2 separate regions of the Homo sapiens genome follow, and region 1 is reported to be linked to region 2. Evidence: microRNA targets listed by miRTarBase, many of them from high-throughput screens and not tested one by one. Region 2 holds a microRNA gene; the other region holds the end of a gene's coding sequence.

Region 1 (5,000 bases), not on the chromosome of region 2:
AGCAGGCTTACAGCCACTCCCACCGATGTCACAACCTGGGCCACGCACAGGAATTTTCCTGGCCAGGTAAGGGGCTGCTCAGGCAGCCTGGCCACTGGGGAAGGGTGGACTGAGGGTCCCCATGGCCACCCCTGCTTAAATAAAGCAGGTGGTCAAAACTGGCAAGCCCTTTGGACAGTCGTAGCCAATTCAACAGACCACACAGGCATAATTTGTTCAATTATTTATTTATTGTGGAGTATTTTACATGCAAGAACCCAATTAGAGAGAGGGTATCTGGAAGGAGGGCCAGTGGGGTGGATGGATGCTCTGAGCCTCGGGTGCACTGACCCACCCTCCAGAACCAGCTCTGCCCACAGAAACACATGACAGTGACAAAAACACTAAACTTCTAGGACGAGTGGACAGCAAACGCGACATTCAACACATTCCTCTTTTCAGTAGCCCCCAACAATCCTGAGAATCCTCACAATTAAGTGCAAACTTTAGGAAATAAATATCCGTCCCCCTCTCCGGGAGAGCCTGGAGGTATGGACAGACAGAAGCAGTTCTGACTCGGGGGCTGATGGCTGCTCCCTATGGCTGGTGGCCGCAGGGGAAGCCTGACTTGGACCCCACAGATAGGAAGGGCTGGTGACGGGCACTGGGGGAGGCGAGCACTTCAGGGGCTGACAGACAATGTCTCTGGGGTGGAAACACTTCTCTCTGGGTGGGGAAGGCCTACTGTAACCCAAGTGGGTGAGACGTCCCCAAAGCCGACAGTGCAGAAGCTCCCAGGGACCACTCCAGCAGTGCCAGAGGCTGAAGCCAGGCTGCAAGCAAGTGCTCCTCCACACTGCTCTTCCAGAGCTGCCCCAGGGGCTGGCCTGGCCCCAGGTGGGCCCATGGCCTACCCCAAGCCATCCAGAAGGCTGGGCCCAACTGAGTTAGAGATGCGTGTCTGCGGGGGCCCAGGGTGGGGTGTGGCAGCGGGAAGGAGGGGGGCAGGAGCGTGAGCATCGGCAGCAGCTGCCCTGCGAGCATCTGTTGCCCTTGGGCCATGTGGAGCCCTTGCCCCAACTCTCCGGGCTGGGTCCTCTCCTCCCCAGGGGCTGGAGTGACAGCACAGGCCCCAAGACCACCAGGTGGCATGGTGGGGTGGTGGGGGAAGGCTAGTGAACCAAGGCACCATCACTCACATGGAGGCGCTAATAGAAAGACAGGAGGACAGACGGATGGTCACCTTTCCCTCTAGCCCAGGCCAGCAACAACCCCTTGAGGCTCCAAAGCTCCTTGTCCCATGCACGCTGGTAAGCGAGCCAGTCATTCTCTCAGCCTGGCCACAGATGGCCTGCTCAGTGCCTGGAGACTGCCCAGGCAGGGCTACTCTGCAGCAGGCAGGCCAAAGGCCCATGGTGCCAGGGGCCCAACTGCACATAGCGCCATTCTCTGCCGCCCAGTGGCCAAAAAGGTAGGCAGGAGGGAATGGTTAGTTTTCACATCTCAGCAACAATGAACGCAGAAAGGGTTAAACACATTCCCAAGAAAATATTTTGACAAAATAAATATTTTAACCTATAATCAGGTATAATTAGTGCTTATAAGGAATCCCAGCAATAATTTAGTGTAATTAAGTATATACTGTATCTGTGATTTCTAACACTCACGGAGAGGCTGGTGGGCCTTGAGAGTCCAGGTTTCCTGACAGAGCCGCACCCCCTTCCTGGACCAGGCAGCCTAAGGACTGTGCTCCCCAGATGGTGGGGTCTGGGAGCAGAGATCTCAGGACAGGCCATCTCGCCAGGGCTAAGTGGAACCCACTCTGGGGCACCGGGGCTATACTTGCTTCCTGTGCAGGCCTCAAGCAAGAGCCCCCTCTGCCTACAGGTGGGGCAGGCTACCTCCGGATAGGAGGTGCAAGCAGGCCACCTGAGGGGTGGCTCCAGGCTAGGAAGGCAGGTGACACTTGTCAGCATGGCCAATGGCCTCCTGCCAGCCCATACAGGTCCACCACTCCCTGCTGCCCCTGGGGCAGCCAGGCCTCTCCAATGATGCCTGGCAACCAGCTGGCGCTGGCGCTGGAGCTGGAGCGGGGCAGTTCTGGGAGTGGGTATGAAAAACAGTTTTGCTGGGGGCTCCCCAGGAGGGCGCCTATTTCAGCTTCACGCACTATGGAATCCCTGCTCCTTTCAGAGCCTCCAGGCTCCTGACTTTTTGGGACTCCTGGTTCCATGAGGCAGGGAGGCTGGCTCTTCCCTCTGAGGACACTGGGTCTGGGATGCAGTGCTGAGGCTGCGGAGCACTGACTGCCCGAGGTCGGACCGCCCACCACCCGCAGGCCCAGCTCTGGCAGGGCCTCAGAGACAACCCAAGTCACAACCCAAAGGCAGCCAAAGGGCTGGGGCCTCTGGGTGCACCTGGGCCATCCCAGCCACCTTTTCTGCAGCTCAAGTGAAGCCAGCTAACTTCAGCAGTCTTCACATTCAAGCTGGCCTCAGGGGGGTCTGTCTTTGAGAAACATTGAGGAGGCAGGGGCTCATCAAGCATCAGGGAGCAGAAGGCCCAGGCAGGTGTGGCATGTGCTGCCAGAGAGGACAGGGCTAGAATCAGGCTGGCCACTCCACGGAGGAGCTTCCTGGGTGAACCTGAGCAACTGGAGTGAGACATCCCAGCTAGTCCCACCCTCAGCCAGACAGAGGTTTCCTCTCTGGAGGGAGCTGGAGGGCTGCTAGCCTGGCACAGGGTCCTGGGTCGGGCAGCACTTGCTCTTCACTGGAATAGTTCCTGTTGGTGCTCAGCATGACCCCCAGCTGAAGTCGCCATCCTGAATGCTCCCCAACGACCATGTCGCTGGTCTCTTCTCCCGTCAAGCCCAGCCCCCTTTCCCTGCTTGGCTGGTGGTCTGGGCCGTCCTGCCAGGTGGGAAGGGCTAACTACACCATGGATCAGGAACCTGTGCTGACCTAGGCAGTGCATGCTGGAGGGGACAGGAGCAGACTGACCCAGCGAGCTGGGCCCAAGACACACGGGGATGCATACAGCTGCAGTATTCTCCTTCTGAGCAACAGCAGCCTGGTGGGAGGTGTGGGGCCAGGTGTCTGGCTGGACCAGGGCCTGGGATGACCCGAGTCCCTTGCCCATGGCCAGGAGACACACCAGTGAGGACACGGGATGGGAATACATGTTACCAGCCCCTAGCTGCTCTGCCTGCCTTCAGGATCAGCTTGGGGAGAGAGTATAAATTGGTGGCCAGAGGACCTCTGAGGTGGGAGGAGGCCAGACTGTCAGGAGAGTCTGTGCAAGGAGGCCAAGGCCTATGCCAGGGAGCAGAGCAGGGGCCTTAGTGCTGCCCAGGCCTCTCAGTCACTGGGAACCTCCAAGGATGCCACAAAGCTGTTTGCTGCTGGCTCTTGAGGCAGATGTGTGAGGCTACGGCAGGCCAGGCCACAGCACTGAGTGTGGCCCATGTGCACATCTGTGACACTTCCCCAGGCAAGCCAGAGCAATACCTCCAGTGCAAGTCCCTCCACAAGCCAGGACCAGGTGTGCGGGTGTGAGCCTGCAGTGTGTGCGTGGCAGTTTGGTTTATTGGTAGTGTCGTCTCAGCAGCGTGCCACATGGCCACCATCTGCGGGCTGCCTGCTGCCCTCCCAATTGTCCTTGGCCCTCTCCCTGCCCAGGGAGCCTGCAGGGACCCTCGGTGCCAGGCTCGGCTGCTGAGCCAGCTTGGGTGTGAAGCCTGGGCTGGCAGCTGAATGATGGAGAGAGGGTCAAGAAGGTGAGAGACCCCCACCATGGAGACCCAGCAGAGCCTTCTCAAATGCTGATAAGCCAAATGTCACAAGGTGACAAGTCCAAGGAGTGAGACCAGGCCCATGAGTGCAGCACACCCTGCTCTTCCAGAGATGCCACAAAGCCCCTTCAGGGAGAGAGGGGCCCAGGAGGGCAGAATGCCTGAGAAGGTCGCTGAGCCAGGCAGAGGTGAGCACAGGGCGGGGCCGGGCGTGCTCTTTCTCCATGGGCGGGTGGAGGAAAGACAGTCCGGGTGGTCTGCTCAGGAAGCACTGCCTGGGGCTGGGCCACTCTGCCCGCTCTTCCTGGGAGGAAACATGGGCAGAGGGGCCCATGGTGGGAGGGGAGAGAGTCTCTGGCTGCAGTTGTCCCACCACTCAGAGAAAAGAAGTGGCTGAAGCTGGTCCTGACTAGTGGGAGGCCTGGGAGCAGACACGGTGGCATTTCCATGGAAACACAGGTGTGCAGGCCGTGTGGAGCTGGGGATGTAGGAGTGGCCAGTGCCCGGTGTCCACGGGGTGCGAGCGGGGACCCGCCATCTGGGGAGGCAAACCACAGAGCTGCTCACAGGGCGAAGAGGGCATCCTCTGACCGCTCTGGCTTCTTCCGGCCAGAAGGGTTTGAGGCTGGGGCAGGAGCCTCCATGGGGGGCGAGGGGAGGTCGGGAACCATTTCAGCAGCTTTGGCTCTTTCTTCAAGGAATTTATCAAACTCTGCAATACAAACCAAGGCAAGGGTCAGGGTTGGTGAGGGCAGGCCACCAGAGGAAGCGCACCCTTCCACTCCCCAGCCCGTTTCCTCCTCTAGGGCAGGCATGAAGCCCACCTAGGAGCAGGTGGGTAGGGAGGGGTTCGTGAGCTGCAGTGTGGGGGGAGGCTCCTGGCTGTGCCCAGTCCTCCTGCCCTGGAGGGAAAGGCTCTGGAAAACACAGCCCAGAGTGCTCACCCTACCGCTGACCATTTTCCAGATCAGCACTGGGTTTTGTCCATTTTCCAGATCAGCACTGGGGGTGGGGCAGGGTAAGCTGGAGGGGCCAGCTTCTGATTAAACAGGCAGGAACCATCCCACCTACCCCACCCTTGCCCACCAATGGAGGACTGAGGAGATGCTGAGGAATGCAGTGGGGAGGGGGGAGTGCCCCATTTCTATGGGCACTGAGAGCTAGGGAGCAGGGTCCTCTGAAGTTTCCCTCCCTGCGGAGCGGTCTGGCCACAGGGTCTGGCAGACCT
Region 2 (5,178 bases):
TAAACCAGGTTTTTTTCATGTGCTAGGACTACAACACAGATCAAAACAGCCTCATAGAACTGACATTTTATTGAAAAACACAGATACTTTTTAAAAAGTAACTAGTAAAATTCTTGGTATACACAGGAGTGTTAAATTATATGTAGTTATTTATGCTGGATATATGTTATTTATCACATTATTAAATTACATATATTTTTAGTATTCTGTAGATTGCCTTTTTATTATCTCAGTGGTCTGATTTGAAGACAAATTTTAATTTTTTCAAAGTCTATTTTATCAACTTATTTTTAATTTTACTTTTATATTTTGATATCATATATAATAATTGATAGGATGCCTATGGTATATTATCGGGGGAAAAAAGTTACTGAAAGGTAAAGAAGATTAAAAATAAATATCTATATAAATAAAAAAATATATATATATTCTGCCTTTTATTCATAAAATTTTATACTTGGACATTTTGGCCTAAAATTGTGTTATTTTCCGTATATGGTTTGAAATATGGATCGAGGTTCATATTTTTCATATATATATATATATATATCACATTTTCCAGTATCTTGTTTAAATACTATCATTTCTTCATTAGACTGACTTTACAGCTTAGTCTAAATGAATTGGTGACATATATGTATATTTCTGGTCCTTCTATTTGTCCATCCTTTCTTCAGTACCACACTATATTGGCTAATCTAGTTAGACAGTAAATCTGGAAATTACAAGTGTAAATTCTCCAACTTTGTGATTCTCTTTCAGACTCTTTTGGATATTCTAGTTTATTTGCCTTTTATATCAGTTTTAGAATCATCATGGTAATGTCTACAAATATTTTTCTGCGACATTGGTTGGAATTGCATTACCTCTAGAGATCAATAGAACTCTATAAGTCTATAGATTTGAATCCTTCGATCCATAAATATGATACTCCTCTCCACTTAATTAGGAATTATTTGATTTCCTAGTGTATTTACACTTTTAGCATACAGATGTGTTTGGTTTTCTATTGATACTGAATCAAATTGCCACAAATTTAGTTGTTTCCAACAACACAAATTTATTATATTAGGGTCTAAAGGTCAGAAATCTAAATTAGGTTTCTCTTGGCTAAAATGAAGGCATTGGCAGGGCTTTGTTCCTTCTGTTGGCTCTAGAGGAGAATCTACTTGATTGTCTTTAGAAGAAGATGCTACTTGCTTTCTCCGTTCTTTGGCTCATGGACTTTACCTCCACCTCTAGTCAATACTATAGCCTTTTCCAATGTTTCTCTTATTCTAACCGCCTTTCTCCTACTTATAAGGACCCTTGTGATAATGTTGGGCTCACCTAGATAATCTAGGATAATCCCAATCTCAAAATATTTAATTTAATCACATGCACAAATTTTCTTCTGCAATAAAATGTGTTGTTTACAAGTTCAGGGGTTACTCTGTAAACATTGTTTTGAGGGGGCTGTTATTCTGCCTACCACAGAGATCTTGTAATTTTTTTCTTAGAATTTCACCTAAATATTTTATGTTCATATTATTTTATTTTTCAATTAGCTTGATTTAATCATTTCCTAATGTACACATATATCAAAACATCATGGTGTATACCTTAAATATATACAACTTTTATGTCAGTTAAACCTTAATAAATTGGTAGAAACATGGATGAATAATACAAAACAGAATTTCTCTGAAAGAAAACATAAATACCAGTGAATATACTATTCTTTTTGAGTAAATCATAAAAGAGATACGATAACAACTAAATTTTCTTACTTTCATTTTAGGATATCACTTAAAGTTATATAAGTAACATGCTTTCACTATAATACAGTTTTAGAAACTATATACTAAGAGGAGTTATCACTTTGGAAAATTCTACGTACATACAGTATTTCAAACTGACAGAATTTTTTTACTGTTCAGAATGTTCCCCCCGACCCACACACACATACAAAGATTCTTTGTATTCTATTAGTGCAATTGTTTCATTATGGAAAAGATACATCAACAGATTTTTTTTTTTACTTTCAGTTACTAATGGTCTTACACATATTCATCCATTCTGAATCTAAAAAAAAAAACATAAACTAAAATCCTCCCTGTAACCATATAGTAATTTTTTAACAGTTTTTCCCTTTCAGTGTATATGCTGTAGCCTCTATTTCAGTTGGAATCAAAATTGTATTAATCACTTACTATTTCTAAAACATTTTTTACACATTTCCACAATATAAGTAGCTTATTTATAACCTACTTCCCAAACATGCATACTGGTTTCATGCTGCAGAAGGCATCACACAGTCTGGCGCTTGTCTCTCTCTCTCCCTCTCCCTCCTTTTCTCTCTCTCTCTCTGTGTGTGTGTGTGTGTGTGTGTGTATTTATTTCCCTCTCTCTCTCTCTCCATTGGGTTAAAAGTTAAGAAGTGTCACCAGAAGAAAATGGAGAGAGAAGCCTGGGAGACATCTCCTGAGTATCAGTTCTGTCACACCCTTTCATTCTTCAAGTGTATTCTTAAAAAATGGGGAAAAAGATAATGAAAAAGAATGAAATATTCTTGGATGGACTATGCTTAACCCATTGTAAACTGGTGACATATAGCTTTGAAAGGTAATTTAAAAGTCAATGAAAAACATTTTAGTCTTTGAGAGACAAATGGACACTGTGGATCAACAATGAAGGGACCTGAGAGGCAGGAGAGTCTTTTGGGAGCTCTAAAGGAGAAGCCTTGCAAATGATGACTAGTTGACAAGAGAGAAAAGTTTAGAGAATTTAGGAATCTGGAGTACAACCTTCCAGCTGACGAAGAATGGCTGTGGCCTCTATACAATGTATTTCTTATTTGAGCCAAGCCTCATTTGGCAAAAATAGTTAAATTCTTAAAGAACTTGAGTGCATGCGTTTTCTCAGGAGTCCACAGTTCCTATGTCTAGTCGTCTAGAAGGCACAAAAAGTTCCTTGAAGTAGCCCAGCACTGAGGAGTGGGTGCACAGGATCCAAAACAGGCATCACCATGCTCGCAGCTACAGCCCCATCCCTAGGGACACCACATATGCAGTGCATGCTGTACATTACTCCTCTCAAAAAGGTGACATTTATATTTTAGTTCACATAAATGACACCTCCTTGTGAAAGGCACTGTACACTGAATGGCTGAATGTGGCATCCCAGACCAAATGCTCCCTATTCATGCCATTTTTATTCAAGTCCCTATATAGGTGTATACATTAGCATGGCCACCAAGATTTATGCCAAGGAATTATGCAAATCCTAGCCCCCAGTGCTCCCCTTTCATCCTGCCCTGAGTGAGATTTTAACATGCAGATTTTTGTTTTATTTTGTTATAATCCCAGCCACCCAGGAGCTGAGGCAGGAGTACACCTTGACCCTGGGAGTCAGGTTTCAGTGAGAGGAGATCAGGCCACTATACTCAAGCCTGGGTTACAGAGTGAGACCCTGTCTCAAAACAAAAACAAAATGTAATAGAAAAAAAAAAAAAAAAAAAAACATAAAATTACTGGTTAAGTAGAAAGGACCAACCACTCACCAAAGCTTTCTGTTGTCCTAAACTCCAGCTGTGCTGCACACACCTAAAGTCCATCAGAAAAACCACAGAATACAACAACCTGGATGCAAAGAAGTGGAGAAGAGTCAGAGGGTAACAGGTTGGAGAGAGTAGAAATTTCATTTCTTCTTCAGGCTATGGAGCAGGAAGAACCCATAGAAATTAATACAAGATACACACAAGACAGATAATGGGCTGGAAGACAGGAAATGCTATTTTATTTCTCTTAGCTCCATGGTTCTTTATAGTTCATTTATTTGAGTGCCTGCTCACTCGCTCTGTGTGTGTGTGTGTGTGTGTGTGTGTGTTATTAAATAGTAATAGCTGTAAGATTTTTAGTTCTAAGATTCTTTGCATTAATATATTTTCCATCCTTTTACTTTTACCCAACTTTCACGTAGGTCTTCATATTTAAAATGGCTTTGTTTTAGAAAGTATATAGTTGTTTCTTATTTTTATATAAATTGACAATCTCTGTCTTAATAGAAGCATTTATATCATTTATATTAATACAATTATTTACATACATGCATTTAAATCTACTGGCTTTCTGATTGTTTTCTATGTTTCATCCTTTTCTTATTCCAAATTTTCCTCTTTTCTGCCTGATGGTGGATTTAGTATTTTTAGCATTCAGTTATATTTTCTCTACTCTTGGCGTATTAGTTAGGTCACTTTAAAAAATATAGTGGTTGCTCTAGGGTTTACAAAGTTCATATTTAATTCATCACAGTCTATCTTCAAAGAATATTATACTACTTTTTGGCTGAATAGGAACAGCTCCAGTCTGCAGCTCCCAGTGTGATCAATGCAGAAGACGGGTGATTTCTGCATTTCCAACTGAGGTACCTGGTTCATCTCATTGGGACTGGTTGGACAGTGGCTGCAGCCAATGGAGGGTGAGCTGAAGCAGGGTGGGGTGTCGCCTTACCCGGGAAACACAAGGGTTTGGGGGATTTCCCTTTACTAGCGAAGGGAAGCCGTGACAGACTACCTGGAAAAAAGGACACTTCCGCCTAAATACTATGATTTTCCCAAGGTCTTAGCAACCGGCAGACAAGGTGATTCTCTCCTGTGTCTGGCTCAGCGGGTCCCATGCCCACGGAGCCTTGCTCACTGCTAGCACAGCAATCTGAGATCGATCTGTGAGGCAGGCGGCAGCCTGGCTTGGGGAGGCGCATCCGCCATTGCTGAGGCTTGAGTAGGTAAACAAAGCAGCCAGGAAGCTCAAACTGGGTGGAGCCCACAGCAGATCAACAAGGCCTACTGCCTCTAAACTCCACCTCTGTGGACTGGGCATAGCTGAACGAAAGGCAGCAGACAACTTCTGCAGACTTAAACATCCCTGTCTGACAGCTCTGAAGAGAGCAGTGGTTCTCCCAGCATGGCGTTTGAGCTCTGAGAAAGGACAGATTGCCTCCTCAAGTGGGTCCCTGACCCCCCATGTAGCCTAACTGGGAGACACCTCCCAGTAGGGGCCAACAGACACCTCATACAGGTGGCTGCCTCTCTGGGACGAAGCTTCCAGAGGAAGGATCAGGCAGCAATATTTGCTGTTCTGCAATATTTGCTATTCTGCAGCCTCCACTGGTGATACCCAGGCAAACATGGTCTGTAGT

Evidence for each region. Region 2 holds the annotated microRNA hsa-miR-513b-3p (AAAUGUCACCUUUUUGAGAGGA, at 3,070-3,091, opposite strand). A microRNA usually pairs through its seed, bases 2 to 8, with sites in the 3' UTR of a target mRNA and lowers its output. Matches are read on the target gene's strand: a 7mer-m8 pairs with bases 2 to 8, a 7mer-A1 pairs with bases 2 to 7 and ends in A, and an 8mer does both.
Region 1: the mRNA of TOM1L2 is a reported target of hsa-miR-513b-3p. Seed matches in the 3' UTR shown: 7mer-m8 at 3,814-3,820.

Annotation. Positions count from the first base shown.
Region 1 is chr17:17,843,300-17,848,299 of GRCh38, forward strand. TOM1L2 (target of myb1 like 2 membrane trafficking protein) reads right to left here. Exons shown (of 15, transcript NM_001082968.2): 15 at 212-4,484. The coding sequence ends at 4,336. Among named protein-coding and RNA genes, the nearest start is that of SREBF1, 8.8 kb to the left of the region's middle. RefSeq lists an enhancer at 968-1,488.
Region 2 is chrX:147,195,988-147,201,165 of GRCh38, forward strand. It overlaps MIR513B (microRNA 513b), which reads right to left and starts at 3,140; the gene lies at 3,057-3,140. All of the region lies in intron 1 of LOC105373347 (periphilin-1), which reads left to right.